Linked DNA regions of Homo sapiens: region 1 is linked to region 2. Evidence: fine-mapped expression QTL. A gene starts in region 2. The other region holds a variant in brackets. All regions are shown on one strand. Distances are from middle to middle. Region 1 overlaps SFI1 (SFI1 centrin binding protein). Region 2 holds the start of SFI1 (SFI1 centrin binding protein).

What was found.
Region 1: its variant is fine-mapped to the expression of SFI1 in regulatory T cells (Schmiedel 2018, PIP 0.92).

The regions. Positions count from the first base shown.
Region 1 is chr22:31,585,555-31,601,526 of GRCh38, reverse strand. It overlaps SFI1 (SFI1 centrin binding protein), which reads right to left. Exons shown (of 33, transcript NM_001007467.3): 15 at 11,950-12,080. Among named protein-coding and RNA genes, the nearest start is that of MIR7109, 28 kb to the left of the region's middle. RefSeq lists enhancers at 8,076-8,884, 9,694-10,503. The variant T/CCCCTCT (reference allele first, on the strand shown) is at 7,522.
Region 2 is chr22:31,489,526-31,505,497 of GRCh38, reverse strand. SFI1 (SFI1 centrin binding protein) reads right to left here and starts at 8,962. Exons shown (of 33, transcript NM_001007467.3): 1 at 8,861-8,962. EIF4ENIF1 (eukaryotic translation initiation factor 4E nuclear import factor 1) reads left to right here and starts at 15,656. Exons shown (of 19, transcript NM_019843.4): 1 at 15,656-15,804. RefSeq lists silencers at 7,941-8,000, 8,901-9,120, 15,252-15,901 and enhancers at 8,611-8,880, 11,155-11,204, 14,642-14,701, 15,101-15,723, 15,724-15,972.

The sequences.
Region 1 (15,972 bases), 96 kb before region 2:
ACAAGGGGCAGACCCCTAAGGCTGACTGAGCAAGTCTGAGGGGGGGTCCCAGGAAATAGTATTTTAAACAAGTATTTCAGGTGAATTAGAAAAGTAGAAAGGTTGGCCGGGCATAGTGGCTCACGCCTGTAATCCCAGCACTTTGGGAGGCCGAGGTGGGCGGATCATGAGGTCAGGAGATCGAGACCATCCTGCCTAACACGGTGAAACCCCATCTCTACTAAAAATATAAAAAATTAGCTGGGCCTGGTGGTGGGCGCCTGTAGTCCCAGCTACTTGGGAGGCTGAGGCAGGAGAATGACATGAACCCGGGAGGCGGAGCTTGCAGTGAGCCGAGATCGTGCCACTGCACTCCAGCCTGGGCCACAGAGGTTGCAAAAAAAAAAAAAAAAAAAAAAGTAAAGAAAAGTAAAAAGGTTTGGGAACCACTGTTTTGTCATCTCTGCCTAGGCCTACAGATCACCATTAACAACATCAAATCCTGCAGCAGCAGTGCTGGGACAATTGACCAACAGCCACTAGGGGCTACATGTTGGTGAAGCCACAGGATCCATGTTCAGCACTGGGGGATCTTGCTCCCCTGACATTTAACACGCAAGACACATCACTTAAAGCAAAGATTCCACTTCTAGTCAGAACACAGTCACTGGTCCTGGATCTGCCCTCTGGCCATATATGACAAAACTAGACAAAATACATATGGCAACTGTCTTCAGGCGCTGGACAGTAAGTGTAGATTCTGATGCTGAAAAGATAGGACACGGGCGAGGTGAGCCCCTAGGCCGCCCAGACTTTCTGCCTGGGGGCACCTTCTAAACAGTGAGGGGAAGGGAGGCTAAGCAGAGCCTCCCTCAGTCTCAGTGAGCTGAGGAGGCAAAGACTGGAGTTCATGACTGCCAGAGGGGCTGGAATTTGGGGTCAGGGTACTAGAAAGGAGACAGCTGAACAGAGGGAAATACCCAAAATTTTACTGAGGTTGTCCCAGGTCCTCAGATGAGGGCCTGGAGGCCTAGCAGAGAGTGACTGCTGCAGGGCCAAGAGGGGAACAGAGACAGCAGAAGCTGGACAGGGTTGAAAGACGGAGCTCTGGCCCAGCCAGAGGGCAGAGACCAGACACAAAAGCTGAGATCGTTCAACCCCAGTTGACCTTAGTATAAAAACACTAAAAGATCATCTTTAGGCTGAAGGGAAATGATACAGATGAACATTCAAATGTACAGGAAGACACAAGGAACACTGGAAAGGGAAAATATGTGGGTAAATATAAGAGGCTGAATTTTTTTCTTCTCAATTTATAAAAAGAGTACTGATTATTTAAAGCAAAAATAGTAACGTTGTAGGCTGGGCCTGGTGGCTCATGCCTGTAATCCTAACACTTCAGGAGGCTGAGGCAGGAGGATTGCTTGAACTCAGGAGTTCAAAACCAGCCTGGGCAGCATAGTGAGACCTCGTCTCTACAATCAATCAATCGTTAGACATAAAATGTATGACAAAAAGTACCACTGGTTGGGGGTGGTGGCTCACTCCTGTAATCCCAGCACTTTGAAAGGCTGAGGCAGGAGGATGTCTTGAGCCCAGAAGTTCAAGACCAGCCTGGACAACATAGTGAATCCCCACTATGATTTATTTCTTAAAAAAAAAAAAAATAACAACAATAAAAATATCATCAAGGATGGGGACAAAATAGAATTTTATTGTTTTCATGTTCTTGCACTAAACATGAAATGGTATATTAATTCTAAACAGAACTGGGCCAGGCATGGTGGCTCACGCCTGTAATCCCAGAACAGTGAGAGGCCATGGCAGGAGGATCACTTGACCCCAGGAGTTTGAGACCAGACTGGGTGACATAGTGAGACCCTTTTTCTACAAAAAATTAGAAAAAAAAATTAGTCTGGGCTAGGCACGGTGGCTCACGCCTGTAATCCCAGCACTTTGGGAGGCCAAGGCAGGTGGATCACGAGGTCAAGAGATGGAGACCATCCTGGCCAACCCAACATGGTGAAACCCTGTCTCTACTAAAAATACAAAAATTAGCTGGGCGTGGTGGCGTGTGCCTATAGTCCCAGCTACTTGGGAGGCTGAGGCAGGAGAATCGCTTAAACCTGGGAGGCGAAGATTGCAGTGAGCCGAGATTGTGCCACTGCCACTGCACTCCAGCCTGGCAATAGAGCGAGATTCTGTCTCAAAAAAAAAGGCTTTTCAACAAATGGTGCTGGAAAAACCTGATAAACACAGAAAAAAATAAACCTTGACTCCTACGTCATATCATATGTAGAAAAAAAATTCAAGATGATCATTGACCTAAATGTAAATGCTAAAACTATAAAGCTTCCAGATAAAATATAGGAAAATATATTTTCAGATCTTAGAGTAGCAAATATTTCTTAGGGAGGACCCTAAAATCACTAACCATAAAAAAAAAGGATAAATTGGGCCGGGCGCGGTGGCTCACACCTGTAATCCCAGCACTTTGGGAGGCCGAGGCGGGCGGATCACAAGCTTAGGAGTTCGAGATCAGCCTGACCAACACAGTGAAACCCCGTCTCTACTAAAAACACAAAAATTAGCTGGTCGTGGTGGTGTGCGCTTGTAATCCCAGCTACTCAGGAGGCTGAGGCAGGAGAGTTGCTTGAACCTGGGAGGTGGAGGCTGCAGTGAGCTGAGATCGTGCCACTGCACTCCAGCCTGGGCAACAGAGCAAGACTCCATCTCAAAAAAAAAAAAAAAAAAAAAAGATAAACTGGACTGTATCAATCCAACAGAATTCAAACACTTCTGCTCATCAAAAAAAAAAAAAAAAAAAAAAAGGCCAGGCGCAGTGGCTTATGCCTGTAATCCCAGCACTCTGGGAGGCCGAGGCGGGCGGATCACGAGGTCAGGAGATCGAGACCATCCTGGCTAACAGTGAAACCCCGTCTCTACTAAAAATACAAAAAATTAGCTGGGCGTGGTGGCAGGCGTCTGTAGTCCCAGCTACTCGGGAGGCTGAGGCAGGAGAATGGCATGAACCTGGGAGGCAGAGCTTGCAGTGAGCTGAGACAGCGCCACTGCACTCCAGCCTGGGCGACAAGAAAAAAACCATGCAAAACTAACCTATGATGACGGAAATCAGAATACTGGTTACCTATGCAGGGTAGGGACTGACTGGAGGGGACATGAAGGAACTTTCTGGGGTAACAGAAATGTTCTGTATCTTGACTGGAGTGTTGATTATATAGGTGCATAAATTATGAAAACTCGGCCGGGCATGGTGGCTCACGCCTGTAATCCCAGCATTTTGGGAGGCCAAGGCGGGCGGATCATGAGGTCAGGAGATCCAGACCATTCTGGCTAACACAGTGAAACCCCTTCTCTACTAAAAAAAAAAAAATACAAAAAATTAGCCGGGTGTGGTGGTGGGCACCTGTAGTCCCAGCTACTCAGGAGGCTGAGGCAGGAGAATGGCATGAACCCAGAAGGTGGAGCTTGCAGTGAGCCAAGATCACGCCACTGCACTCCAGCCTGGGCAACAGAGCGAGACTCCGTCTCAAAAAAAAAAAAAACCTATGAAAACTCATCGAACTTTATTTAAAATCTATGCCTTTCACTGTATACACATTTTATCTCGATTAAAATAAAAGACAAACCAATTTTGTCTCATTCTCAGTACCTTTCACTGGAGGGTTATAAAAATTATTTTTAGCCATAATTCATGAGATTCCATCATAAAATCTGTCTATATTCCTAAAACATTAAAAAATACCCTAAGAATATCAAAGATACATATTTATTTGGAACTTTAATTTGCTAAACTCCAAACCAATCCTCTGAAAATGTACTTACCATGAGAGTCACAAATTAAAACAACTCCAGGGGCCACAGGGACAGTTCATATTTTTATGCTAGGCCCTTGGTTTGCATTTTACATGTTTTCCCATTTCATTTTCATGACAACCATATGAGATAGAGACTATGACCACATCATCTCAATTTTACATTCGAGGAGACTGAGGCTCAGAGAGACAGACTGACTTGTCCAGGGTCACAGAGCTGGCAGGCGACAGAGCATAGGTCTGAACTCAGGCTTGTCCAGCTTCTAAGCCAGACTCTCAATCACTCTGCTCATGAACAAGGAAAACAGGAATCCAAAAAACCAAGTTTACTGAAAAGGTCCAACCAAGCCAAAACAGGTAAAAATCTAGATCAGGCCTACACCGTCCTGCAAGCCTCCTGGCTATACCCTGTCTCCAAGTCGCCCTCTGCCCTTTTTCTCCAGAGTGATAGCTCTAAAACCACCCAAACTGCTCCCTAGCAAAAATCCTTTAAAGGCTCCTCTTGGCTATTTGGAAGGTACTTTTAATTTTTGGTTCTCACAGCATACAAAATACAAAAAAAGAATAGAACCAAGCACGGCTACTTGACAGTAAAAAAAGAAACGGGTACTGTGTGTGCATGTTTTCAGTACTGAAGCCATTTGGAAACGGGTACTGTGTGTGCGTGTCTTCAGTACTGAAGCCATTTAGAAACGGGTACCGTGTGTGCGTGTCTTCAGTACTGAAGCCATTTAGAAACGGGTACCGTGTGTGCGCGTTTTCAGTACTGAAGCCATTTAGAAACGGGTACCGTGTGTGCGTGTCTTCAGTACTGAAGCCATTTAGAAACGGGTACTGTGTGTGCGTGTCTTCAGTACTGAAGCCATTTAGAAACGGGTACTGTGTGTGCGTGTTTTCAGTACTGAAGCCATTTTTTTTTTTTTTTTTTGAGATGGAATCTTGCTCTGTCACCTAGGCTGGAGTGCAGTGGTGCGATCTCGGCTCACTGCAATCTCCACCTCCTAGGTTCAAGCGATTCTCCTGCCTCAGCCTCCCGAGTAGCTGGGATGTGCGCCACCATGCCTGGCCAATTTTTGTATTTTTAGTAGAGATGGGGTTTTGCCATGTTGGTCAGACTGGTCTCCAACTTCTGACCTCAGGTGATCCACCTGCCTTAGCTTCCCCAAGTACTGGGATTACAGGTGTGAGCCACCGCGTCCAGCCTGAAGCCATTTTTGAATGAATCTTATACCAGCCCACAATACATGACTAGGTAAAGGCAAAGCTGCTCTGTCTGCAGAAGCCAGAAGAGACAAGAGATGTCCTTTCATCAGCCTCTATTTCCCGTGGCCACCACCTAAAACCATCTCCCTGGACTTCGTACTAAGGAAGCCAGAGTTCTGGCTAACCTCAAACTAGCATTCAAAGCCCTCCAGATGGATAGACAGATAGATAGAGAGAGAGAGAGATATTTATTTTGAGATGGAGTCTCGCTCTGTCATCCAAGGCTGGAGTGCAGTGGCGCCATCTCAACTCACTGTAGCCTCTGCCTCCTGGGTTAAAGTGATTCTTGTGCCTCAGCCTCCGGAGTAGCTGGGATTATAAGCATGCACCACCACGCCCCGCTAATTTTTGTATTTTTAGTAGACATGGGGTTTCACCATGTTGGCCAGGCTGGTCTGAAACTCCTGACCTCCAATGATCCACCCACCTCTGCCTCCCAAAGTGCTGGGATTACAGGCATGAGCCGCCACACCTGGCCTGAAATCCTCCAGATTAAAGATGACTGCAACTTCTCCCAATGCATGCCCCTCCATCTCACCCCTCTGTCCTAAGATAAAGTACACTGAACTTAAGGTAATTTCCAAAACTGTCATTTTACTAGTTCCATGTACCTGCTCAAATATCTTTCGAATATCTATCTATAGGGTCAGCCCAATCTCTTCAGTCTGGGCCTCCCCATCTTGCCCACTCCAGCCACCATCCTCACCCTCTCACTCACAGGAAGCCTCTCCCAGATACTTCCATGCTCAGTCTCCCTCAGCACTAGCTCTGAGCACTGGAAGAACTTGTGGCTGACATGACTGGGGACACGTGGATCTGTTCTCTTGAATTGGTTCTCAGTTGTTTCTTATCTCCTCACAAAAATTTCACCCTCCTACAAAGTCATCAAAAAGATCTTCCTCTTGATCAAGAAGAAAGCACCTGGACTTTGGAACTGGAGATGTGAATTAACCTGGCTGTACCACTTACTGGTTGTGTTACCATTTATCATTTTGAACCTGACCTCTCAGAATCACTGTGAAAAGGAAATTATTAATGAAGATAATGATGCCATGGGCAGAATGAGTTTATGTATTTGTTTTCTGTCTCCCATCACACAATGCCCAACACAGTGGCAGACATACAGTTAGTGATTAATAATTTCTTCATTACAGGCTGGGCGTGGTGGCTCATGCCTGTAATCCCAGCACTTTGGGAGGCCAAGGCGGGTGGATCACGAGGTCAGGAGTTCGAGACCAGCCTGGCCAACATGGTGAAACCCCGTCCCTACTAAAGATACAAAAAATTAGCCGGGCGTGGTGGCGCACACCTGTAATCCCAGCTACTTGGGAGGCTGAGGCAGGAGAATTACTTGAACCCAGGATGTGGAGTTTGCCGTGAGTCAAGATGGTGCCACTGCATGCCAGCCTGGGCGAAAGGACAAGACTCCAACTCAAAAATAAATAAATAAATAAATAAATAAATTATTATTATTTCTTCATTATGTCCCACCATATACTAAGAACCTGCTGTGGGCAAGTTTGTCCCTGTGGGAACTAAAAAGATGTAGATCTGCTCCTTGAGCTTTCTAATTTTTTTTTTTTTTTTTTTTTTTGAGACAGAGTCTCACTCTGTCGCCCAGGCTAGAGTGCAGTGGTGTGATCTCAGCTCACTGCAAGCTCCGCCTCCCAGGTTCATGCCATTCTCCTGCCTCAGCCTCCTGAGTAGCTGGGACTACAGTCGCCCACCACCACGCCCGGCTAATTTTTTGTATTTTTAGCAGAGACAGGGTTTCTCCGTGTTAGCCAGGATGGTCTTGATCTCCTGACCTCGTGATCCGCCCGCCTTGGACTCCCAAAGTGCTGGGATTACAGACATGAGCCACCAGGCCCGGCCTTTTTCTTTTCTTTTTTTTTTTTTTTGAGACGGCGTCTCGCCCTGTCACCCAGGCTGGAGTGCAATGATGCGATCTCAGCTCACGGCAACCTCCATCTCCCAAGTTCAAGCAATTCTCCTGCCTCAGCCTCCCGAGTAGCTGGGATTACAGGCATGTGCCACCAGACCGGGCTAATTTTTGTATCTTTAGTAAAGAGAGGGTTTCACCATGTTGGCCAGGCTGGTCTTGAACTCTTGACCTTGTGATCCGCCCGCTCCGGCCTCCCAAAGTGCTGGGATTACAGGTGTGAGCCACTGCACCCGGCCCGACCTTTGTAATTTTGTTGATGACTATCATTTCAAGACTTCAAAAAGCCAGGTCTAGCAGAACAGGAACTAAGTGTTTCGGGGAAATGACACTTAAGAATGTCTGCCAAGGTGAGGCAAGGTCCCACCGTGCTCTGATCCAGAAAGCTAATGGGCTGCTTTAATGGAGCTCTCAGTGGCTAATAATGAAGGTTACAAACAGGCTGTTTTGAAAGCCCTTGAAATAAAGATGGACACCTCCCTCTCCCTCTCCCTCTCCCTG[T/CCCCTCT]CCCTCTCCCTCTCCCTCGTCTCCGTCTCCCCATGGTCTCCCTCTCATGCGGAGCCGAAGCTGGACTGTACTGCTGCCATCTCGGCTCACTGCAACCTCCCTGCCTGATTCTCCTGCCTCAGTCTGCCGAATGCCTGCGATTGCAGGCACGCGCCGCCACGCCTGACTGGTTTTGGTGGAGACGGGGTTTCGCTGTGTTGGCCGGGCCGGTCTCCAGCCCCTAACCGCGAGTGATCCACCAACCTCGGCCTCCCGAGGTGCCAGGATTGCAGACGGAGTCTCGTTCACTCAGTGCTCAATGGTGCCCAGGCTGGAGTGCAGTGGCGTGATCTCGGCTCACTACAACCTACACCTCCCAGCCGCCTGCCTTGGCCTCCCAAAGTGCCGAGATTGCAGCCTCTGCCCGGCCGCCACCCCGTCTGGGAAGTGAGGAGTGTCTCTGCCTGGCCGCCCATCGTCTGGGATGTGAGGAGCCCCTCTGCCTGGCTGCCCAGTCTGGAAAGTGAGGAGCGTCTCCACCCGGCCGCCATCCCATCTAGGAAGTGAGGAGCGCCTCTTCCCAGCCGCCATCACATCTAGGAAGTGAGGAGCGTCTCTGCCCGGCCGCCCATCGTCTGAGATGTGGGGAGCGCCTCTGCCCCGCCGTCCCATCTGGGATGTGAGGAGCGCCTCTGCCCGGCCGAGACCCCGTCTGGGAGGTGAGGAGCGTCTCTGCCCGGCCGCCCCGTCTGAGAAGTGAGGAGACCCTCTGCCTGGCAACCACCCCGTCTGAGAAGTGAGGAGCCCCTCCGCCCGGCAGCCGCCCCATCTGGGAGGTGAGGAGCGTCTCCGCCCGGCAGCCACCCCGTCCGGGAAGGAGGTGGGGGGGGGTCAGCCCCCCGCCCGGCCAGCCGCCCCATCCGGGAGGGAGGTGGGGGGTCAGCCCCCCCGCCCGGCCAGCCGTGCCGTCCGGGAGGGAGGTGGGGGGGTCAGCCCCCCACCTGGCCAGCCGTGCCGTCCGGGAGGGAGGTGGGGGGGTCAGCCCCCCGCCCGGCCAGCCGCCCCGTCCGGGAGGTGAGGGGCGCCTCTGCCCGGCCGCCCCTACTGGGAAGTGAGGAGCCCCTCAGCCCGGCCAGCCAGCCCGTCCGGGAGGGAGATGGGGGGGTCAGCCCCCCCGCCTGGCCAGCCGCCCCGTCCGGGAGGGAGGTGGGGGGGTCAGCCCTCCCCCCGGCCAGCCGCCCCGTCTGGGAGGTGAGGGGCGCCTCTGCCCGGCCGCCCCTACTGGGAAGTGAGGAGCCCCTCTGCCCAACCAGCCGCCCCATCCGGGAGGGAGGTGGGGGGGTCAGCCCCCCGCCCGGCCAGCCGCCCTGTCTGGGAGGGAGGTGGGGGGGTCAGCCCTCCGCCTGGCCAGCCGCCCCGTCTGGGAGGTGAGGGGCGCCTCTGCCCGGCCGCCCCTACTGGGAAGTGAGGAGCCCCTCTGCCCGGCCAGCCGCCCCGTCCGGGAGGGAGGTGGGGGGGTCGGCCCCCCGCCCGGCCAGCCGCCCCATCCGGGAGGGAGGTGAGGGGGTCGGCCCCCCGCCCGGCCAGCCGCCCCGTCCGGGAGGGAGGTGGGGGGGTCAGCCCCCTGCCCGGCCAGCCGCCCCGTCCGGGAGGGAGGTGGGGGGGGTCAGCCCCCCTGCCCGGCCAGCCACCCCGTCTGGGAGGTGAGGGGCGCCTCTGCCCGGCCGCCCCTACTGGGAAGTGAGGAGCCCCTCTGCCCAACCAGCCGCCCCATCCGGGAGGGAGGTGGGGGGGTCAGCCCCCCGCCCGGCCAGCCGCCCTGTCTGGGAGGGAGGTGGGGGGGTCAGCCCTCCGCCTGGCCAGCCGCCCCGTCTGGGAGGTGAGGGGCGCCTCTGCCCGGCCGCCCCTACTGGGAAGTGAGGAGCCCCTCTGCCCGGCCAGCCGCCCCGTCCGGGAGGGAGGTGGGGGGGTCGGCCCCCCGCCCGGCCAGCCGCCCCATCCGGGAGGGAGGTGAGGGGGTCGGCCCCCCGCCCGGCCAGCCGCCCCGTCCGGGAGGGAGGTGGGGGGGTCAGCCCCCTGCCCGGCCAGCCGCCCCGTCTGGGAGGGAGGTGGGGGGGGTCAGCCCCCCTGCCCGGCCAGCCACCCCGTCTGGGAGGTGAGGGGCGCCTCTGCCCGGCCGCCCCTACTGGGAAGTGAGGAGCCCCTCTGCCCGGCCAGCCGCCCCGTCCGGGAGGGAGGTGGGGGGGGTCAGCCCCCCCGCCCAGCCAGCCGCCCCGTCCGGGAGGTGAGGGGCGCCTCTGCCCGGCCACCCCTACTGGGAAGTGAGGAGCCCCTCTGCCCAGCCAGCCGCCCCGTCCGGGAGGGAGGTGGGGGGTTCAGCCCCCCGCCCGGCCAGCCGCCCCGTCCGGGAGGGAGGTGGGGGGGGTCAGCCCCCCTGCCCGGCCAGCCGCCCCGTCCGGGAGGTGAGGGGCGCCTCTGCCCGGCCACCCCTACTGGGAAGTGAGGAGCCCCTCTGCCCGGCCACCACCCCGTCTGGGAGGTGTGCCCAATAGCTCATTGAGAACGGGCCAGGATGACAATGGCGGCTTTGTGGAATGGAAGGGCGGGAAAGGTGGGGAAAAGATTGAGAGGTCGGATGGTTGCCGTGTCTGTGTGGAAGGGAGTAGACATGGGAGACTTTTCATTTTGTTCTGCACTAAGAAAAATTCCTCTGCCTTGGGATCCTGTTGATCTGTGACCTTACCCCCAACCCTGTGCTCTCTGAAACATGTGCTGTGTCCACTCAGAGTTAAATGGATCAAGGGCGGTGCAAGATGTGCTTTGTTAAACAGATGCTTGAAGGCAGCATGCTCATTAAGAGTCATCACCACTCCCTAATCTCAAGTAACCAGGGACACAAACACTGCGGAAGGCCGCAGGGTCCTCTGCCTAAGAAAACCAGAGACCTTTGTTCACTTGTTTGTCTGCTGACCTTCCCTCCACTATTGTCCCATGACCCTGCCAAATCCCCCTCTGTGAGAAACACCCAAGAATTATCAATAAAAAAATAAATAAATAAATAAATAAATAAATAAAAAGAAAAAAGTTGGAATATAGAAAAGCCAGTAGTAAAACTAATCAAGAAAAAGAGAGAAGCAATTCAAATTTAAAAATATATATAAAAATAAAAATAAAATAAAAAGAGAAGGGGAAATGGACACATTCTCTTAAAAACTTGAAACGCTGGCCGGGCGCAGTGGCTCACGCCTGTAATCCCAGCACTTTGGGAGGCCCAGGCAGGTGGATCACCTGAGGTCAGGAGTTCGAGACCTTGCTGACATGGTGAAAGCCCCGTCTCTACTAAAAACACAAAAAATTAGCTGGGCATGGTGGCAGGCACCTGTAATTCCAGCTACTCAGGAGGCTGAGGCAGGAGAATCGCTTGAACCCGGGAGGCGGCGGTTGCAGTCAGCTGAGATCACACCACCGCACTTCAGCCTGGGCAACAGGAGTGAAACTCTGTCTCAAAAAAAAACTTGAAATGATTAATTGACATAAGAATTAGAAAATCTGAATAGCTCAACAGCCAATTACCAAAATCTGAATAACCCTTTGAGGTAAGCACTATTACTCCCCCACTGCAGAGATGAGAAAACTAGAGAATTGGTCATTTGAGTACCTTGGCCAAGGTCACAGAACAGAGCCAGGATTTGAACCCAAGCAGTCTGATTCTGTGACTTCTCTCTACTCCATGGTGGTGGATTCTATGTGTCAACTTGACTGGGCCACTGGGTGCCCAGATTAAACAGTGTTTCTGGGTGTTTGCAGATGAGACAAGCATTTGAATCTGTGGGCTCAGTAGAGCAGACTTCTCTTCCTAATGTACGGGGGCCTCAGCCAACCCCTTGAGGGCCTGAGTAGAACAAAAGGAGAAAGAATCTGCCCCTTTTGCTTCCTGCCTGCCTGCGTGGGCAGATCTCATCTCATCTTCTCCTGCCCTTCAACTGGGATTTACACCTCGAGGCCCCTTGGTTCCCAGGCCTTTGGACACAGACTGGAATTGCACTACCCACTCTCCTGAGTCTCCAGCTTGCAGATGGCAGGTCATGGAACTTCTCAGCCTCCATAATAGTGTAAGTCAATTCCTCATAATAAGTCTCTTCATGTATATGTTAACTTGACTAAGCCACTGGCTGTTCAGATTAAACACTACACATTTTTTTTAATAAATACATATATACACACACACAAAAAAAATAAATAAATAAAGATGGACAAAAGATTTCCCAGGGGAAACACTGTCTTGTCTTTTCCTGCTAGATGAAATCAATGAGCCCACATTACTGAAAATCCAGGAAGTACTAGGGCCTGGGGTCTGGGAAGCTGAAAAGCACAGCAAATGGGCTGTGTGGTTGTCAGAGTTAGATTTGAAACACCTGCCCCAGTGCAGACAGGAGCTGCGCAACATACCTGTGGAAACGTGTTGCTCTTGCACTGAGGACATTTTCCTGGTGGCGCCATCGCCAGAGTCTGTTCCATGTGTGGAAGGCAGCAGGCAGGGCTCTCTGCTGGAAATGACCATCCGCTCTGGCCTGTAGCAGCTAAAGTAAAAGAATGAATAACCTTTGTACTTAACTTTTTTTTTTTTAAACATGACCTCTCAGGGTCACACCCTTGTGGGAGGATTGCTTCCTATATAATAAAAATGAGAAAAAGATGAATCATTATTTATTATCTTTGCCAATATGCTAGGTGAAAAATGAAATAGGATAGGTAAAAAAATTTTCACTTAAACATTAGTTAAACATTTCTACACACACACACACACACACACACGCACACACATACACACACTCTCACTCACTCTCTCTTCCCCCTGGCTTAGGTGTTCATACCCATTACCTGTTTCACTGTCTGTTAGCATTTGACTCAGTGATATGTATGGGGTTTTTGAACCTAAACAATTTATTAGTCCTTTGTCATGTGTTATAAATCTTAAATATTTCCCCACCCCATAATATATCTTTTGATTTTGTTTATAGTGTTTGTCATACACATTAATGTAATTATAAAAGTCTACTATTTTACTGATACATCAGTAGGAAGACAGACAATGGACATAAGAATATACCATATATGTCTCCATGATCCAAAACTTTGGGGGGAAAAAGCATATATGCATGTATAGAGGTTTTATGTTTTTGTTTTTTTTGTTGTTTTTTGTTTTTTTTTTTTTGAGACAGAGTCTCACTCTGTTGCCAGGCTGGAGTGCAGTGGCACAATCTCAGCTCACTGCAACCTCCGCCTCCCGGGTTCAAGTGATTCTCCTGCCTCAGCCTCCCGAGTAGCTGGGACTACAGGCGTGCGCCACCACGCCCAGCTAATTTTTGTATTTTTAGTAGAGACAGGGTTTCACCATGTTGACCAGAATGGTCTTGATCTCTTGACCTCACGATCTGCCTGCCTTGGCCTCCCAAAGTGCTGGGATTACAGGCATGAGCCACCGTGCCCAGCCCAAATGTGTAGAGGTTTTAAAAACATGGCTGCAAATTATTTGCTCCTCCTTCACTGAGAAGTGATCTATGTTCCCTCCCCTTGAATCTGGCTGGGATAGTGACTGCTCTGACCAATAGCACATGGTAAAAGTGGCACTGTGTGAGTTCTGAGGCTATACAAAGAGCCACAGAGCTTCTGACTTGTTCACTGGAACACTCATTTTGAAGCTCTGATAGCTGACTACCCCAAGGCCACCATGCTGTAAGGAAGCCCAAGCCTCACAGAGAGGTCATACACAGGTTCTTTGGTTAACATTCCCAGTTGAGCCCAGTCTTTGAGTCATTCTAATCCAGGATCTAGATGTGTGTGAAGAAAACGTCTAGATAATTCTAACCCCTTGCCATTAGAATCTTTTCAGTTGAGGCTGATCTTGGAGCAGAAACCAACCATTCCCATTAAGTCCTGTCTCAATCTTTGATAATCCATAAAGCATAATAGAATGGTTGTTGTCTTATACCACTGAGTTTGGGGTGATTTTTTACATAGCAATAGATAATTGGATCAGTATGCATATGTATGTGTATGTGAATAGATAGGTACATACACTCCTACCCAAACAGAGGAAGAGAGATACCAGGCTTACCCATCAAATGTCATGAATGGTTTTATTTTTTCTTCTTTATATCTTTTTATACTTCCTAAATTTTCTATAATATCTACACATTGCTTTTCTATTTTTTATTATGGGCATTTTCAAATGTAAACAAAAGTAGAAGCCGACAGTATAATGAATACCCATGACCCTACCATCAAGCTTCAACAGTTAGCAAACATTCGCCATTCTGCAAAGAGCCATCCTTTGGTATTTGTGGGGGACTGGTTCCAGGGCCCCTCTCAGATACCAAAATCCATGGATACTCAAGTATCTTATATAAAATGGTATAGCAGGCCGGGTGCAGTGGCTCATGCCTGTAATCCCAGCACTTTGGGATGCTGAGGCAGGCAGAGCTTGGGAGTTTGAGACCAGCCTGGGTAACATGGTGGCACCCCACCTCTACAAAAAAAAAAACAAAACACAAACATTAGCTGGGCGTGGTGGCTTGCACCTGTAGTCCCAGCTACTTGGGAGGCTGAGGCAGGAGAATCGCTTGAGCCTGGGGAGAGTGAGGCTGCAGTGAGCCAAGATCATGCCACTGTACTCCAGCCTGGGTGACAAAGTGAAACCTGTCTCAAAAACAAAACAAAACAAATAAATTGGCATCTGCATATAACCTACACAGTCCTCCTGTATGCATCTCTAGATTACTCATAATACCCAATACAATGTCAATGCTATGTACATAGTTGTTATGCTATATTGTTTATATATTGTTTAGGGGCTAATGACAAGAAAAAAAGGTCTGAATATGTTCAGTACAGACACAACTACTCTTTTTTTCCTCTGAATATTTTTTATCCATGGTTGGTTGAATCTATGGATGTGGAACCCACAGATACAGAGGGCTGACTGTATGTTACTTTTTAAAAAGGAAGAAACCCACAAAAAATAATATTTTTATCTTGTCTAAGAATAGAAAGATCTGATGTGCTCCTGGGATACCTATACCAAGAGGTGATATTCAGATTGTTAGCTAAAGGTTTAGGAATGACTAAGCAGTGCTCTTCCCATTTTTCAGACCCGCTATACCTTTGAAAGCAGGCCGTGCTAGATCAGTGTGAGAGATGAAAACGCTGACCCTGGACTGTCCGCCAGTGTTGGGCCCCTGTGTCAAGGGGAGTGCTCGTTTTCCAGGAAGGAAATAAAAGAGACCCTCTGCTCTCCACCTTGAATAAATACAACCTTTCAACTCTGACACTCATAGTCTTTTTCTGAAAGGCTTTCCTGCATTCTGGTGAACTTGTATTACATGAACTTAAGATAACAAGTGGCAATGTCTTTTCAAAGCCAGTAACATAATCCAAAGGCATGTCAAAGAATGCAGTGACTCTAGCATTTCTTAAGTGTAGGAGGCAAGAGTGACGCAAAAAGAGGCCATGCCCTGTAGCATCCAAGCTCTATCGACTTAGATCATCCTTGGAAAAAAACTCTGAAGAAATCAACAGCAGTTCATTTGTTGGTCTGTGCATTAATTCATCCAAATATTAGCACATATCCCATGCCAAGCACTGTGGGCTAAGGAGGCAAAAGGGACAGGCTGTACTCTAAAGGACTTCACAGCCTGTGGGGAAAGAGAAGCCAGTGAACAACTATAAGATGAATGTTCTGATAAAGCTATGCCTCTGGGGTAGGGGTGGAGGTGGACTGGCCTGGGGGAGGAGGTGACATCTGAGCTGGAAGGGAGTGTGAAATAGAGAACTGGAGGTACAAAGAGAAGCAGGAGGGCACAGAGGACCTTTAGGGAACCACTGGCAGCTTAACTGGTCAGAGTGCAGTTGTGAAGGAACAGAGTGGTAACAGGAAAGGGGAGAGAAACAGACAGGGACCAGCTCCCGAAGGAGTTTGTAGGCCTTGCTAAAAATTTGGATTCTATCCCCAAACTATAGGGAACTAGCTAACAGGTGAATCTAAAGATTCACCTGTTAGACTCCAACAGAAGATGGAGGTACGGGTAGGGTGGGCAGCACGAAAATAACTGGGAGGAGTTTGGTTTGTGTCTTCCTCTGTTTCACTGCCAGAGATGACCAAAAAGGGGGCACTTCTCACAATGGCAGATGCCATCAACTGAACCCTTTCCCACTGAGTGTAAATATGGCCTTGAAATCCTTCTCACTTCAACATTCCAGACAGGTACTCCCAATTGGTAGAACGGGCTTGTAAGGTCACACTCATTTGTCACCCTGGTGCTAAAGTATGAGCCCTGGGAGAGCAGGAATTTTATTGACTTTATATCACAGTTGTATCCTCAGTGCTTAGTGCAGTGTCTGAAGAACAGCAGTTGCTCAATAAGTATTTCTTAAATGGAATTGAATCTATCTTTCTCAATCTGCCTTTACTTA
Region 2 (15,972 bases):
AGACAGGCACCACTGCACCTTGCCTAGTTTTCATTTTTTCTTTTTCTTTTTCTTTTTTTCCGAGACAGTCTCGCTCTGTTGCCCAGGCTGGAATGCAGTGGTGCAATCTAGGCTCACTGCAACCTCCACTTCCCGGGTTCAACCGATTCTCCTGCTTCAGCCTCCCATGTAGCTGGGATTACAGGAATGCACCACCACAACTGGCTACTTTTTGTATTTTTAGTAGAGATGGGGTTTCCCCATGTTGGCCAGGCTGGTCTTAAACTCCTGACCTTAAATGATCTGCCCACCTCGGCCTCCCAAAGTGCTGGGATTATAGGCGTGAGCCACTGTGCCTGAGCCCATTTTTCATTTTCAATTGGTGATAATTTGTATCAAAAATATTCATTAGGAACTGAATAAATTATGGCATAGTTTTTTAAATTATTATTATTATTACTATTTTTCTTTTAGTGCCAGGAATAGCAGTGTTGTGGGTTGAATTGTGTTCCCCAAAAAAGATTTGCTGAAATCCTCACCCCTGCTACCTGCGAATGTGACATTATCTGAAAACAGGGTCTTTGCAGAAGTAATTAAGATGTAAGTTAAGATGAGGTCACATGGGAGTAGGGTGGGCCCATAATCCAACACGATTTGTGTCTTTCTTAAAAGAGAAGAGATACAGGGACAGATACACATAAAGAGGAGAATGCAATGTGATGACAGAGGCAGAGACTAGAGTGATGTATCTACAAGAATTGCCAAAGATTGCTGGCAACATCAGAAGCTAAGAGAAAGGCATGGAACAGATTCTCCCCTGAGCCTTCAGGGAGAGGATGACACCTTGATTTCAGACTTCTAGCCTCTAAAACTGTGAAAGAATAAACTTCTATTAGTTTTAAGCCACCCGGTTTGTGGTACTTTGTTACAGCAGCCCTAGGAAACTAATACAAGTAGTAAGACAGAAGAGTAAGATTTAAGTAAATGGTGGAGGCAAGCTAACAGGGTGAACACATCCTGTGTTGAGTAACGGTGATGCATTTACAAGTTGTTTCATTCTAAAAGAATGAAGTCACCCTTATAATCAAGGTCACATATTTCAATGACAATCAGACAAGGAATTAGCCAGTTTATCCATACAAAACGAATAATCCTTACTTACATCAAACCGATGTCCTAGTTTTTCTGATACTACACTCCAAGTAACAGAGGTCATCATAAGTGATTATTTCTATAAATAAATCAAATGGAGTATTCAAATAGTGATTTTTCGTGAAATACTGCTATAATCAATGTGTCACCGCCTTGGGTTTCTGTCATAATGATCCTGTGGAATGTCCTTCATGGTCAAGGACTCCCTTCTGTTATATACTCTATACCAGCATTCTACCTATTTGTACATGTCTGCCTTCCCCACTAAAATATAAATTCCATGGAAACAGGAATCACATCTGATCTTCTCTCCATTCTATCTCCAGCCTCTAAAACAACGTCTGTAACCTCACAGATAAAATACACATATACTGGAAAAACTAGGACACAGGTTTGCTTTCAATAAGGACATGTATGAATATAAACTTGCTTATAAGTTGGAATATAATGAATATAATGATAATCAAATACAAAACATGGCCGAGGACAGTGGCGCATGCCTGTAATCCTAGAACTTTGGGAGGCCGAAGCAGGTGGATCACCTGAGGTCAGGAGGTCGCCACCAGCCTGACTAACGTGGTGAAACCCTGTCTCTACTTAAAAAAAAAAAAAAAAAATTGGCATGGTGGCGAATGCCTGTAATCCGAGCTACTTGGGAGGCTGAAACAAGAGAATCACTTGTACCTAGGAGGCGGAGGTTGCAGTGAGCCAAGATCGCACCACTGTACTCCAGCCTGGGCAACAAGAGCGAAACTCCATCTCAAAAAAAAAAAAAAAAAAAACAGTCCAAGAAAAACAAAAATTATTAGGTGTTGACTCCCAGTTAAACATGTAGATTGACCTTCTAAGGTGGCAGCAAAGAATACAAAGGAACGAACCATAAGGTTAAAGAGATGACAGAAGCGATTATAGGACATGAGGGATTTCCACAGGTTTTACAAGAAAGGAAAATGAAGTGGCCTAACAGGTTTGAGGAAATGAAAAACTTCAGAGTGGATACCAAAGGAAAGTGGACCACACAGAATTCCAACCCTGTCAGACAGGGTATTCACGCCACTTCTGCTGTCCCGCTTCCAAAATTCTGGTAGCTAGATGGTACCTCTCAGGCAGGAGACTGGAAAAGTCTTCTCAGAAAACAATAAAAACTAACACATCTCCAGATTCTGAGACCTGTGCCTTACTCTCCATCAATGAAAAAGCAGACTTGTCCCTAGATTACCCTAAAGTGAAGCCCCTGAACTCACAAGTCCTGCTCAGACACAAGGAGCTTCCAACTAATTTCTCAGTTACACCTTTTTTTTTTTTTTTTTTTGAGACAGAGTCTCGCTTTGTTGCCCAGGCTGCAGTGCAGTGGCTCAATCTCGGCTCACTGCAAACTCTGCCTCCTGGGTTCAAGCGATTCTTCTGTCTCAGCCTCCTGAGTACCATCACACCTGGCTAAGCTAGACTGGTCTTGAATTCCTGACCTCAAGTGATCTGCCCGCCTCAGCCTCCCAAAGTGCTGGGATTACAGGTGGGACCCACCACGCTCGGCCATAATCTCTCAGTTACACTTAAGTATAAACAGACAATTGAGAATCATAAAACATTTAGAAAAGACCTCCAACAAATAAAAAAGAGACCAAAATAAACCCAACAAAGCACTGATGAAGTGCTACCACCCATGATGAAATCTTGCTAAAAAATTGAACCTGGCCGGGCGCAGTGGCTCACGCCTGTAATCCCACGACTTCAGGAGGCCGAGGCAGGTGGATCACCTAAGGTCAGGAGTTCAAGACCAGCCTGGACAACATGGTGAAACCCCGTCTCTAATAAAAATACAAAAATTAGCCGGGCATGGTGGCAGGTGCCTGTAATCCCAGCTACTTGGGAGGCTGAGGCAGGAGAATCGCTTGAACCCAGGAGGTGGAGGCTGCAGGAGCCGAGATCACGCCATTACACTCCAGCCTGGGTGACAAGCGTGAAACTCCATCTCAAAAAAAAAAAAAAATTGAACCTGAATATCATCCAGCCTCATCTAGAACTAAGTACAGTAAGTCCTCACTTAATGTCATTGATAGGTTCTTGGAAACGGCAACTTTAAGCAAAATGATGTATAAGGAGACCAATTTTACCATAAAAGGTAGTTGATACAAACAAGATTTAAGTTCCTGTAACATATTTCTGGTCAGAAAACATCACCAAACTTCTAAATAAAGATCCAAACCCTTTTAATATTAAACACTGAAATAAATGTGAGCTATACATATATGTACAGAAGATTCATAAGAACAAGTAAGATAATTATTTACCCACTTATTCCAGTTCAGGGTCAAGGTTGGCTAGAGTGTATCCTGGCAGCTCAGGGCACAAGGGGGGATGCCACCCTGGACAGGAAGCCATTCATGGCATTGCACACTCACACACACACTCACTGACACTAGGATCATTTAGACATGTCAATGAAGCTAATGTGCTTATCGTGGGGACATGGGAGGAAATCAGAGCATCCGGCAAAAACCCACATAGGCATGAGGAATGTGCCAACTACAGACAGACAGTGGACCCATCCAGAATCAATTTTTTCTTATCAATGTTATGTTTTAACAAAATGTTGAGAGTACCACACAATCAAAAATGTATAGACTATAATCAAAATAACATCTATAGATAAGGTACTCTGCTACGCATTAGTGCTAAGCACTTTTCATGAACTACCTACTTTAATATAACTACCTCAGCAAGTGGTTATCAACTTCATTTTACAGCTGGAGGGCTCAAGGTTCCCAGCTAACAAGTGGCGGAACTGGGACTAGTACAGGCAGACCTCAGAGATACTGAGAGTTCAGCTGCAGACCACATAAATAAAGCCAGTCACATGAATTTTTTGATTTCCCAGTTCATATAAAAGTTATGTCAGCTGGGCACGGTGACTCACGCCTGTAATCCCAGCACTTTGGGAGGCCGAGATGGGCGGTCATGAGGTCAGGAGATCGAGACCATCCTGGCTAGCACAGTGAAACCCCGTCTCTACTAAAAATACAAAAAATTAGCCGGGCGTGGTGGCGGGCGCCTGTAGTCCCAGCTACTCGGGAGGCTGAGGGAGGAGAATGGCGTGAACCCAGGAGGCAGAACTTGCAGTGAGCCAAGATCACGCCACTGCACTCCAGCCTGGGCAACAGAGCTACACTCCGTCTCAAAAAAAAAAAAAAGTTATGTCTACACTTGTAGTTAAGTGTGCAATAGCATTGTCTAAAAAACTAATGTACATACCTTAATTTAAAAATATTTGGCCGGGCACAGTGGCTCACACCTGTAATCTCAGCACTTTGGGAGGCCAAGGTGGGTGGGTCACGGGGTCAGGAGTTCGAGACCAGCCTGGCCAATATGGTGAAACCCCGTTCTACTAAAAATACAAAAATTAGCTGGTGGTGGTGGTGGGCACCTGTAATCCCAGCTACTCAGGAGGCTGAGGCAGGAGAATTGCTTGAACCTGGGAGACGGAGGTTGTAGCAAGCCGAGATCACGCCATTGCATTCCAGCCTGGGTGACAGAGCAACACTCAGACTCAAAAAAAAAAACAAAAAACAAAAACAAAACAAACACACACACACAAAAACACCACTTTATTGGGCAGGCACAATGGCTCACGCCTGTAATCCCAGCACTTTGGGAGGCCCAGGCGGGAGAATCACCTGAGATCAGGAATTTGAGACCAGCCTGGCCAACATGGCAAAACCCTGTCTCTACTAAAAACACAAAATTAGCTGGGTGTAGTGGCAGGTGCCTGTAATTCCAGCTACTCAGGAGGCTGAGGCAGGAGAATCGCTTGAACCCAGGAGGCAGAGGTTGCAGTGAGCCAAGATCATGCCAATGCATTCCACCGTGGGTGATGAGATGAAACTGTCTCAAAAATAAAAATAAAAATAAATAAAAACACCTTATTGCTAAAAAATGCTAACAATTATCTGATTCTTCAGTGAGTTGTAATATTTTTGCCAGTAGAGGGTCTTGCCTCCATGTTAATAGCTGCTGACTGATCAGGGTAGTGATTGCTGAAGGTTGGAATGGCTATGGCAATTTATTTTTTCTTTTTTTTTTTTTTTTTTTGAGACAGAGTCTCACTCTGTGGTGCGATCTCAGCTCCCGGGTTCAAGCGATTCTCCTGCCTCAGCCTCCCAAATAGTGGGGATTACAGGTGCCCGCCACCACAACTGGCTTTTATATTCTTAGTAGAGTCAGGGTTTCACCATGTTGGCCAGGCTGGTCTTGAACTACTGACCTCAAGTGATCGCCCACCTCAGCCACCCAAAGTGCTAGGATTACAGGCATGAGCCTGTAATGCAGGATTATACTGCATCCGGCAACTGTGGCATTTTCAATGTTTTTTTTTTTTTTTTTTTAAGATGGAGTCTCACTCTGTCGCCCAGGCTGGAGCACAGTGGTTGCAATGCTCACTGCAACCTCCGCCTCCTGGGTTCAAGCGATTCTCCTGCCTCAGCCTCTGGAGTAGCTGGGACTACAGGCGCATACCACCGTGCCTGGTAATATTTGTATTTTTAGTAGAGACGGGGTTTCACCATGTTGGCCAGACTGGTCTCGAACTCCTGACCTCAGGTAATCCGCCCGCCTCAGCCTCCCAAAGTGCTATGACAATTTCTTAAAATAAGACAATAGTGATGTGTGTCACATCGATGGACTCTCTTCCTTTCATCAAAGATTTCTCTATAGCATGTAATGCTATTTAATAGCATTTTACCCACAGTAGAACATCTTTCAAATTGAAGTCAATCCTCTTAAATCCTACCACTGCTTTGTCAACTAAGTTTATGTAATACTCTAAATCCTTTGCTGTCATTTCAACAATGTTCACAGCATCTTCACCAGGTGTAGATTTCAACTCAAGAAACCACTTTCACCAGGCACGGTGATTCACACCTGTAATCCCAGCACTTTGGGAGGCTGAGAGATGGAGACCATCCTGGCTAACACAGTGAAACCCTGTCTCTACTAAAAATACAAAAAATTAGCCAGGCGTGGTGACACATGCCTGTAATCCCAGCTACTCGGGAGGCTGAGGCAGAAGAATCACTTGAACCCGGGAGGCGGAGGTTGTGGTGAGCACTTTGGGAGGCCAAGGCAGGAGGACTGCTTGAGACCAGGAGTTCAAGACCAGCCTGCTCAACTAACAAGACCCTCATCTCAAAAAAAAAATTAGCGAGGCATGGTATTACACACCCAGGTACTGAGGAGGCAGGAGGCTAAGGCAGGAGGATCACTTTCGCCTAGAAGTTCAAGTCTGCAATGAGCCATGATCACCACTGCACTCCAGCCTGGACAACAGAACAAGACCCTGTCTGAAAACAAAAGTAAAAACAAAGCCGGGCATGTAGTGGCTCAGGTCTGTAATCCCAGCACTTTGGGAGGCCGAAGCAGGTGGATCACATGAGGTCAGGAGGTCAAGAGTGTGCCATGCACTCCAGCCTGGGCAATAAGAGTGAAACTCCATCTCAAAAAAAAAAAAAAAGAAAAAAAGAAGCCACTCCTCATCCATCCAAGTTTTATCATGAGGTTGCAGCAATTGGTCACATTTTTAGGCTCCCCTTCTAATTCCAGTTTGCTTGATTTTTCTATCATATCTGCAGTTACTTCCTCCACTCGGGTCTTGAGTCTCTCAGTTATCCATGGCGGCCTGACTCAACTTTTTCAAACTCCTTTTAATGATTTTTTTTTTTTTTAGACGGAGTCTTGCTCTGTCGCCCAGGCTGGAGTGCAGTGGTGCAGTCTTGGCTCACTGCAACCTCTGCCTCCTGGGTTCAAGCAATTCTCATGCCTCAGCCTCCTGAGTAACTGGGATTACAGGCGCCCACCACCACACCCAGCTAATTTTTGTATTTTTAGTAGACACAGGGTTTCTTCAAGTTGGCCAGGCTGGAATTGATATTTTAACCCCTTCCCACAAATCATGAATGTTCTTAATGGCACCTAGAAATCCTTTCCAGAACATTTTCAATTTACTTTGCCCAGATCCATCAGAGGAATCACTACCTATGGCAGCTATGGGGTCACAAAATATATATATATTTTTTTGATATGGAGTCTCATCACTCTGTCGCCCAGGCTGGAGTGCAATGGCGCAATCTTGGCTCACTGCAAGCTCCGCCTCCCGGGTTCAAGTGATTCTCCTGCCTCAGCCTCCCCAGTAGCTGGGATTATGGGTGCCCGCCACCACATCCGGCTAATATTTTGTATTTTTTAGTTGAGACGGGGTTTCACTATGTTGGCCAGGCTGGTCTCAAACTCCTGACCTCGTGATCCACCCGCCTCGGCCTCCCAAAGTGCTGGGATTACAGGCATGAGCCACCATGCCCAGCCCACAAAATGTATTTCTTAAATAATGACTTGAAAGTCAAAATTACTCCTTGAACCATGGGCTATAGAATGCATACTGTGTTAGCAGACATGTAAAGTAACATTAATCTCTTTGTACATCTTCATCAGAGTTCCTTGGTGACCAGGTGCCTTGTTAATGACCAGTAATATCTTGAAAGGAATCCTTTTTTCTGAACAGTAGGTCTCGATAGTAGGCTTAAAATATTCAGTAAACCACACTGTAAATATGATGTAAAGACATTCAGTAAAGAGATGTGTGGTCATCCTGGGTTTGTTGTTGCATTTACAGAGCATAGGCATTTCTAGCTTCGTCATTTCTAGCTTCGTCATTTCTAGCTTTTGATATAAAGTGAGAGACATGGAACTCTTCCTTTCACTGAACACTTAGGGGCCACTGTGGGGCTATTAATTGGCCTAATTTCAATATTGTTGCCTCTCAGGCTACAAGGAGGACCGAGAGGGAGGAGAGAAACAGGGAACTGGCAGGTAGTGGAGCAGTCAGACACAACACTTAAGTTTGCTGTCTTATACCAGTGAGGTTCGTGGCCACCTAAAACAATTGCAATAACAACATCAAAGATCACTGATCACAGATCACTGTAACGGTGCACCTGAAATAAAAAGTTTGAAATATAGCGATAGTTACCAAAGTGTAAGTGACAGGAAGTGGGCACATGCTGTTGAAAAAATAGTTGCTCGGTGCAGGGCTGCTTGCTACAAACTTTCAATTTGTAAAAAACACGGTATCTGTGAAGTGCAATAAAGCGAGGTATGGCTGTACTCAAGTCCCTCACATCATTCATTCAACAAATATTTACAACACATCTACACAGCAGTTAAGAAACCTGAACAGCCTCCCATAAAAACAGGTACCCACCTCCCACGCGGGGAAGGCTTCCAGGTTTGTTTACTGCGTTACTCCCTGCGGGCTCAGTGGGAGTAAGGTCGCCCATATACCAGCCCTTCCGCTCCTGGGCCACGGAGCCGGGAGGAGGAAACCCCTGATTTGGATCCGCGCACGCTAAGGGGCATTGCGTGGACTCGAGCACCGGCCAGGAGCGCACTAGACGCCTGGGAGGATGCGGTGCCCCCAGGGCGGAAGACAAGAAGCCGAGAAGACGCGGCGGGAGAGGATGGCAGGCTCCGGGCCCCGTCCTGCGCCCTCTTGTCGCACTTCCTCCATTCCCGCACCACAGACCCGCAGGTAGACAACATCACCTGCACTTTCAGGGGAGGAAGCGGAGGCTCGGACAGATTTCACCGGGCTCGGAGGAACCCGACTGAGGTCCTTGCCGGGCTCACTGCCGGAAAGGCCGAGCCCAGAAGAGGGTGGGGACGTTAGGGCCGGGCCTCGTACCTGGGGAAGCCGAGCCATCGGGCCTGACGTTGGGAGAAAACCCGGCGGTATACGGCGATCCGGGACCTGCTTCTTAACTCCCGCGCGGTCCACGCCCGCCTCAGCGCTTCGCGCGCCTCTAGACGCCAGTCTCGCGCGGGCCCGCCCTCGTCTCCACGGCGACGCGGCGCGCACGAGGACCACCCCGCCCAGACCCCGGGGCTTGCGCAGCCTCAGTCGGGTAGGTGGCGCACTTCGGGTTGCTTTGCAGCAGCAGCAATGAGAATCGGTTTCGAGGGGCGTGGAGCATGCACCCTCTGGGCATCCCCACCGAGGGTTCTTTATCTCCTTGGCTCGCCAGCTTCGCTCTGAGCTCAGCTTGCTACTGCTCCTCTTAGACAAGAGAAGTGGGAGGTATTCCGAGGCGGAACCCCGAGTTACGCCGCCCGCGGCCGAGCACTAAAGATGAGGTTCCAGCTGGGAGGCGGCTGCGTACGAAAGTCCTCCCTCCCTCACTTCCGGACTCGTGCGTGGGCCTCTCTGGCTTTTGGTTCACAGGGAGTGGAAACCGGAACCCGTGGAGTATGACCCGCCCATGCGTGGACCCGGCAGGTTGCTACAACTTGCACTTGGAGGGGAGAGGTCCCAAGGCCCCCGAATTAGAAATGCCAGGCTCATCTCTTTTTGTAACCCTTCATTTTAAAATGTAATTAATAAGCACTCTTTTTGTTAAATTTTTAAATTTGGGCCGATCCTAATAATCTTAAAAATAGGAGTGGGAGGGGTAAGTGGGACTTTTCAAATACTTTTTTACGTGCTTTGTAAAACATTTGAAAGCACGTGAGATTCCTGGTGCAGAGACTAAAAGCAGTAGTTATTTATTTGAAAGATTTTACGCTAAAAACAGGAAAATTAACTTGTTGGGTGTCTCGGGCTTAGCATCACAGACAATTTGTATTTTTGCCCTATTTTCTACATGCTAATTTTTGCAATTAAAACATTTATTATTTATTTTTTGAGAAGGAGTCTCCCTCTGTAGCCCAGGCTGCAGTGCAGTGGCGTGATCTGGGCTCACTTCCACCTCCACCTCCCGGGTTCAAGTGTTTCTCCTGCCTCAGCCTCCCAGGCGCACGCCACCACGCCCGGCTAATTTTTTTTTGTTTTTTTGATAGAGACGGTTTTTACCATGTTGGCCAGGTGTGTCTCGAACTCCTGACCTCAGATGATCCGCCCGCCTCGGCCTCCCAAAGTGCTGTGATTACAGGCATGAGCCACCGCGCCTGGCCCTAAATTATGTTTTATATGGTGAAACCTCGTCTCTACTAAAAATAAAATTTAAAAAATTAGCCGGGGGTGGTAGTGGGCACCTGTAATCCCAGCTACTGGGGAGGCTGAGGCAGGAGAATCGCTTGAACCCAGGAGGCAAATGTTGCAGTGGGCCGAGATCGTGTATTTGCATTTGCCTGGGCAACAAGAGCAAAACTGTCTCAATAATAATAATAATAATAATTTAAAGGGAGTTCTACTTTAGCGGACATCAATGCTAATGTTTTAGGGACAACTTTTATCTGAACTTAATGTGGCCAAGTAGTTTTAAAATAATTTAGTAAGCTTCAAGGTTGTAATTAACAGTATAACAAAAATATATTTACTGTAATTTAGCCTAAGTACTTTTATGTAATTATGTAAATTTATATAAATTATATATTTAGGATAAGTCAATAAGCACTTCTTTCTAGATGATTTGAGCTAATTTCCTAATGCTTTCTTCCTGTTATGTGCATTTACCATCCTCAGCTTTGACAAATTTAGGAGGGATGAAAGGCATTTCCATTTGAGTTACAATGAAAATAGTCCTGTTGGGAAAGATTAGAAGATAATAGTACATAATAATAGCTAGGACAAGGACATCTTAGAGGCTGGGCACGGTGGCTCACACCTGTAATCTGAGCATTTTGGAAGGCTGAGCCAGGAGAATTGCCTGAGCCCAGTAGTTCAAGAACAGCCTGGGCAACATAGTGCCCATCTCTACAAAATATAAAAAATTTGACCAGGCGCGGTGGCTCACGCCTATAATCCCAGCACTTTGAGAGGCCAAGGTGGGTGATCACTTGAGGTCAGGAGTTTGAGACCAGCCTGGCCAACACGGTGAAACCCCATCTCTACTACTAAAAATAGAAAAATTAGCCAGGCGTGGAGTCACGAGCCTGTAATCCCGGCTACTCGGGGGGTTGGGGCAGGAGAATCGCTTGAACCTGGTGGGGGCGGTTGCAGTAAGCCAAGATCCTGCCACTGCACTCCAGCCTGGGTGACAGAGCGAGACTCTGTCTCGAAAAAAAAAAAAATCTAAGGGTTACTCTTGGAGCAAGAAAAACTGAGTAGGAAAAAGCCCATTTAGAGAGGTGCAATCCAGCCTTCTGTGATGAGGCTGCTGAAAGGTCATGGCCTGGCATTAAACTCTCTCACAGGTGCTCTCATAATTTCTGGGTTTCTAGTATTTTCTTTTTTCTTTTTTTTTTTTTTTTGAGACAGTTTCACTTTTGTCACCCAGGCTGGAGTGCAGTGGCGCGATCTCGGCTCACTGCAACCTCCGCCTCTCAGGTTCAAGCAATTTTCCTAGCTCAGCCACCCAAGTAGCTGGGATTACAGGCATATGCTACCACGCCCAGCTAATTTTGTATTTTTAGTAGAGACGGGGTTTGGTCACGTTGGCCAGGCTGGTCTAGAATTCCTGATCTCAAGTGATCCTCCCACCTTAGCCTCCCAAAGTGCTAGGATCACAGGCATGAGCCACCATGTCCGGCCAGTTTCTGGTATTTTCATTTGCTTCTCTGCTGTTCTTGGACTGCTAATTTCCCCGACTGACTGAACCTTTGAGACCCCTTATGCCAAACTTTGGGCCAACAATTTAGACCTAAACCAAGATCTTACACATATTTAGTAAAGAACTAGAATAATTTCTCTCTCAAAGAGCTTTCCCAAGCTGATACTTGAAAATTGGTTATTAGTTGCAGAAGGGGGCATTTAGAATTACAAATTATTGGCCTGGCACGATGGCTCACACCCAGCACTTTCGGAACCCAAGGTTGGGGGATCACGTGAGGTCAGGAGTTCAGACCAGCCTGGCCAACATGGTGAAACCCCATCTCTACTAAAAATACAAAAGTTAGCCAGGTGTGGTGGCACAGGCCTGTAGTCCCAGCTTCTTGGGAGGCTGAGGCATGAGAATTGCTTGAACTCAGGAGGCAGAGGTTGAGTGAGCCGATTGTGCCACTGCACTCTAGCCTGGGCGACAGAGCAAAACTTGGTCTCAAAAAATTACAAGTTATAGGCCAGGCGCGGTGGCTCACACCTGTAATCACAACACTTTGGGAGGCCAAGGCGGGTGGATCATGAAGTCAGGAGATCGAGACCATCCTGGCTAACGTGGTGAAACCCTGTCTCTACTAAAAATAAAAAATTTAGCCGGGCGTGGTGGCGGGCGCCTGTAGTCCCAGCTACTCGGGAGGCTGAGGCAGAATGGCCTGAACCCAGGGGGCAGAGCTTGCAGTGAGCCGAGATTACGCTACTGCACTCCAGCCTGGACGACAGAGCGAGACTCCGTCTCAAAAAAAAATTACAAATTATCAGGCCGGGCGTGGTAGCTCATGCCTGTAATCCCAGCACTTTGGGAGGCCGAGGTGGGCGGATCATGAGGTCAGGAGTTTGAGACCAGCCTGACCAACATGGTGAAATCCTGTCTCTACTAAAAATACAAAAATTAGCTGGGCGTGGTGGCATGCGCCTGTAATCCCAGCTACTCAGGAGGCTGAGGCAGGAGAATCACTTGAACCTGGGAGGCAGAGGTTGCAGTGAACCAAGATCACACCATTGCACTCCAGCCTGGGCGATACAGCGAGACTCCTTCTCAAAAAATAAAAAATAAAAATAAAAATTATCCTGCCAAGGAGAGTAACACTCAAAAACTACAATGAAACAAGAATTTGCAATTTGTAAGCATCTAGCTTTTGCCAGGCACAGGTGAAAGAAGTTTAGGGAAGCCTCCCTTAGATTATTACCTTTTTTCCTAGGTAATAACCATCTTCTTCTATAAGGACAGAGTGAGACTTTGAGAGGTAAGAAATGAGTTGAGGCCAAAGTTCTACAAGACATTAAAGGAGCCTAGTGGAAAAGTAGGTCCTAAGTAGGATAGACCAGAGGGCTCAGGAAATTAGTTCCAGCTATCAAATCATGATAGCTACAATGCCCTGGGCACTGATATCATGTATGGCTTGTGGTGGTTTAAAACATGCCTACACATTCCTTGACATTCCTCCCACATAGAGGTGGAGTCTAAGTTCCTTTGCTTTGAATATAGGGTAGCCGTGCTGACTCCTTTCTAAGGAACAGAATGTGGCACGTGGTAGAACTGATTCCAGGGCTAGGTTAGGAAAGGCAATACAGCAACTATATGGCTTTCTTGTTCGCTCTCTGAACACTTGCCCTTAGAATCCAGCCCTGATATTTCAAGGAAGCTCAGACACAGGGAGAGGCCATGTGTAAGTGTTCCAGGGACAGCTCTAATGGTCCCAGGTCCTAGCTGACAGCCACCATCAACCACCAGACATGTACGCTTTTACGGGACCCTCAGCCCCAGCCTTTGGGCTGCCCCCACTGGTGCTGAATGGATCAGAAACCAGCCGTCCCAGCAGGAACCAGCCCATTTTGCAGATTTGAGAGCAAAATATAATTGGAATTCTGGGGTGGTTTGTTACGTAACAGTAGGTAACCAGAAATCCATAATTTCCGGGTTTCTAGTATTTTCTTTTTCAAGAAAGCTCAGGTGTGGTGGCTCATGCCTGTAATCCCAGTGCTTTTGGAGGCTGAGGCAGGAGGATCACTTGAGGCCAGGAATTTGAGACCAGCCTGAGCAACATAGCAAGATCCCGTCTCTGCAAAAAATCGTTAAAAATTAGCCTGCTGTAGTGGCAGGAGCCTGTAGTCCCAGCTATTTGGGAGGCTGAGGCTGGAGCAGTGAGCTATGATTGTGCCATTGCTTTCCAGCCTGGATGACAGAGCAAGACTTCATCACCCCCAAAATAAAATAACCAGAGCAGTGTTTTTAATGTTATCTTTAATTCCCTCTGCAAGCCTAAAAAGTAGGTATACTGCGATCCCTTTCGGAAAAATGAGGAAAGGGAGATCCAGGTGGTGAAATGCCTGGCTCAGGTTTCACACTAATTGGCAGGGTCAGGATTTAGCAGCTTCAAAGAACGGGCCTTCTCCACTACTCCAGGGAGTCTCCAAGACACTAAAGGGGATTAGACCTGTTTCCCACAGCTTTAGGAAGAATTTGGATTCCAAAAACAGCTTGATTGTTAAAATAATAACATCTGTATTATCACCTGCAACGTGTCTCTGTATAGGCTTAAAAAGGCTCAGCAGCTTTATGGGTTATATATGGTTTTTTACCCACCTTATCCTGTTTAATCTTAACTGCCCCATGAGCAGGTTATATCATCTTCGCAATTTCACAGGTAAAACTAAGAATCAATAGACTAACTCTCCATAGCTTGTAGGAGGTGGCAGAGATGAGAATGCAAACTCAGGCCTGATGTGCAAGTGTTTCCCTCTGCCTCTTGCCTGTAAAAAAACAGTTTGTAAGAAACACACTTTATTCAGTAATACAAACGAAAAGTTTTCTGTTGCCAAGATTCACAAGAAGGGAGCTGAGTTAGTGGTCACTCACTGCCCAACACCCTAATTTCACAAGTGAAGTGAAGTTCCAACAAAGTAGGCCTCTTGGAAGAAATGTAGACGTTGCTGTCCTTTAACCAGGAAAATTGCGTTCTCGGGACTTCACGCCTATGTATCGCTTCACACCAACGCTGCGCAGTACCACAGGGCAGAAATGGGTGCTTGTGGTATTCCAGCACATAGGACTTCCTCCCCAGGATGCAGTTACCCACACTGCTCACATATTTGCATTTCTGTGGCCCCCTGTCAGCCTGAGTCTGCACTACGTGGTAAGCACTTGACATTCGCCGTCTCATTTCCCCAACTCCACTCGCACTTCCCCTTTCTGTGCAGGCTAAGGACAGATTCAGGTTACCGGAGGGAAACAACATTTCAATGAATTTGTTAGTCGCCTTTATCGCTATCAAAGCCAATCGTGACAAGTTTGTCTTTTAATGCAGCAACCAGTACTCGCGCATAAGCCTCATAGATTTACAGAGGCCATTTTAGAAACACGACCGAAACTTAGGTTAAGTCAGCTTTGCCTAAGATCACGCCACTCGCAAAACAGCTGAGGTTCGAACCCGCACTGGGAAGGCTCGGAAGACCCCAATCTCCTATCTCAAATTCCCACTGCCGAAGCCCCACGGTTCTCTGCCTATGCGAACCATGCAAATACAGCGGTCGTCGCGCCACAGGCCGTGCTAGCCGCCAGCCCAGCCCCATCTAGCCACCGCCTCCGGGAGAGTGGCGTGCCGCGAGTCGCGGGTCCCAAGTGCCGTCCGCTCTGCCCTGCAGCGCGCGTGGGAACGCGGCGGCGGTGGCCTCTGGGCTGCCCACGGCGACCGCCTGCGCGCACGGGAGCGGGTTTCCGCTATCCCCACCGTGGCCTCCTCCTCGCCGCCACCACCTTCCCACCCCCCGGCCCGCGCAGGGGCTGGCGTCCGGGAAGCGCGCGGCGATGCTTCTTTTTCGCCCGGCACCGCTGCAGCCACCTCACATCCGGGCGCGCGGCGGGGAAGGCGGCGCCGGGGCCAGGGTGCGTGGAGGGAGTTATTAAGGGGGAGGGGGCCGAAGAGGAGGGGCGGAGGGCCGGGCTGCAGTTACGGCGGCTGAAGAGAGACAGCCCAAGCCGGTCGGGGTGGGGGCGCGAGAGCGAAGGCTGCGGGGAGCGGCGCTGGGACCGGTGCGGGCAGCGGGGAGGGGAGCGGCGGCCGAGGCAAAGGGCCGCCGAGCGGCGGAGGCACCGAGTAAGGGTCGGCGGCGGTGGCGGCTGGGTCCGGGGCACCGCGCGCCCGGTGCTCCCGGGTGTAGAAGGGGCGCGGGCGCATTGCTCCCGGGGTCGCGTGCGTGAGCGCGGGCGCCGGGGCGCCCGCAGGGGGTGGGCAGGGGCGCGAGGCCCGCAAGGCGGCCGGCGG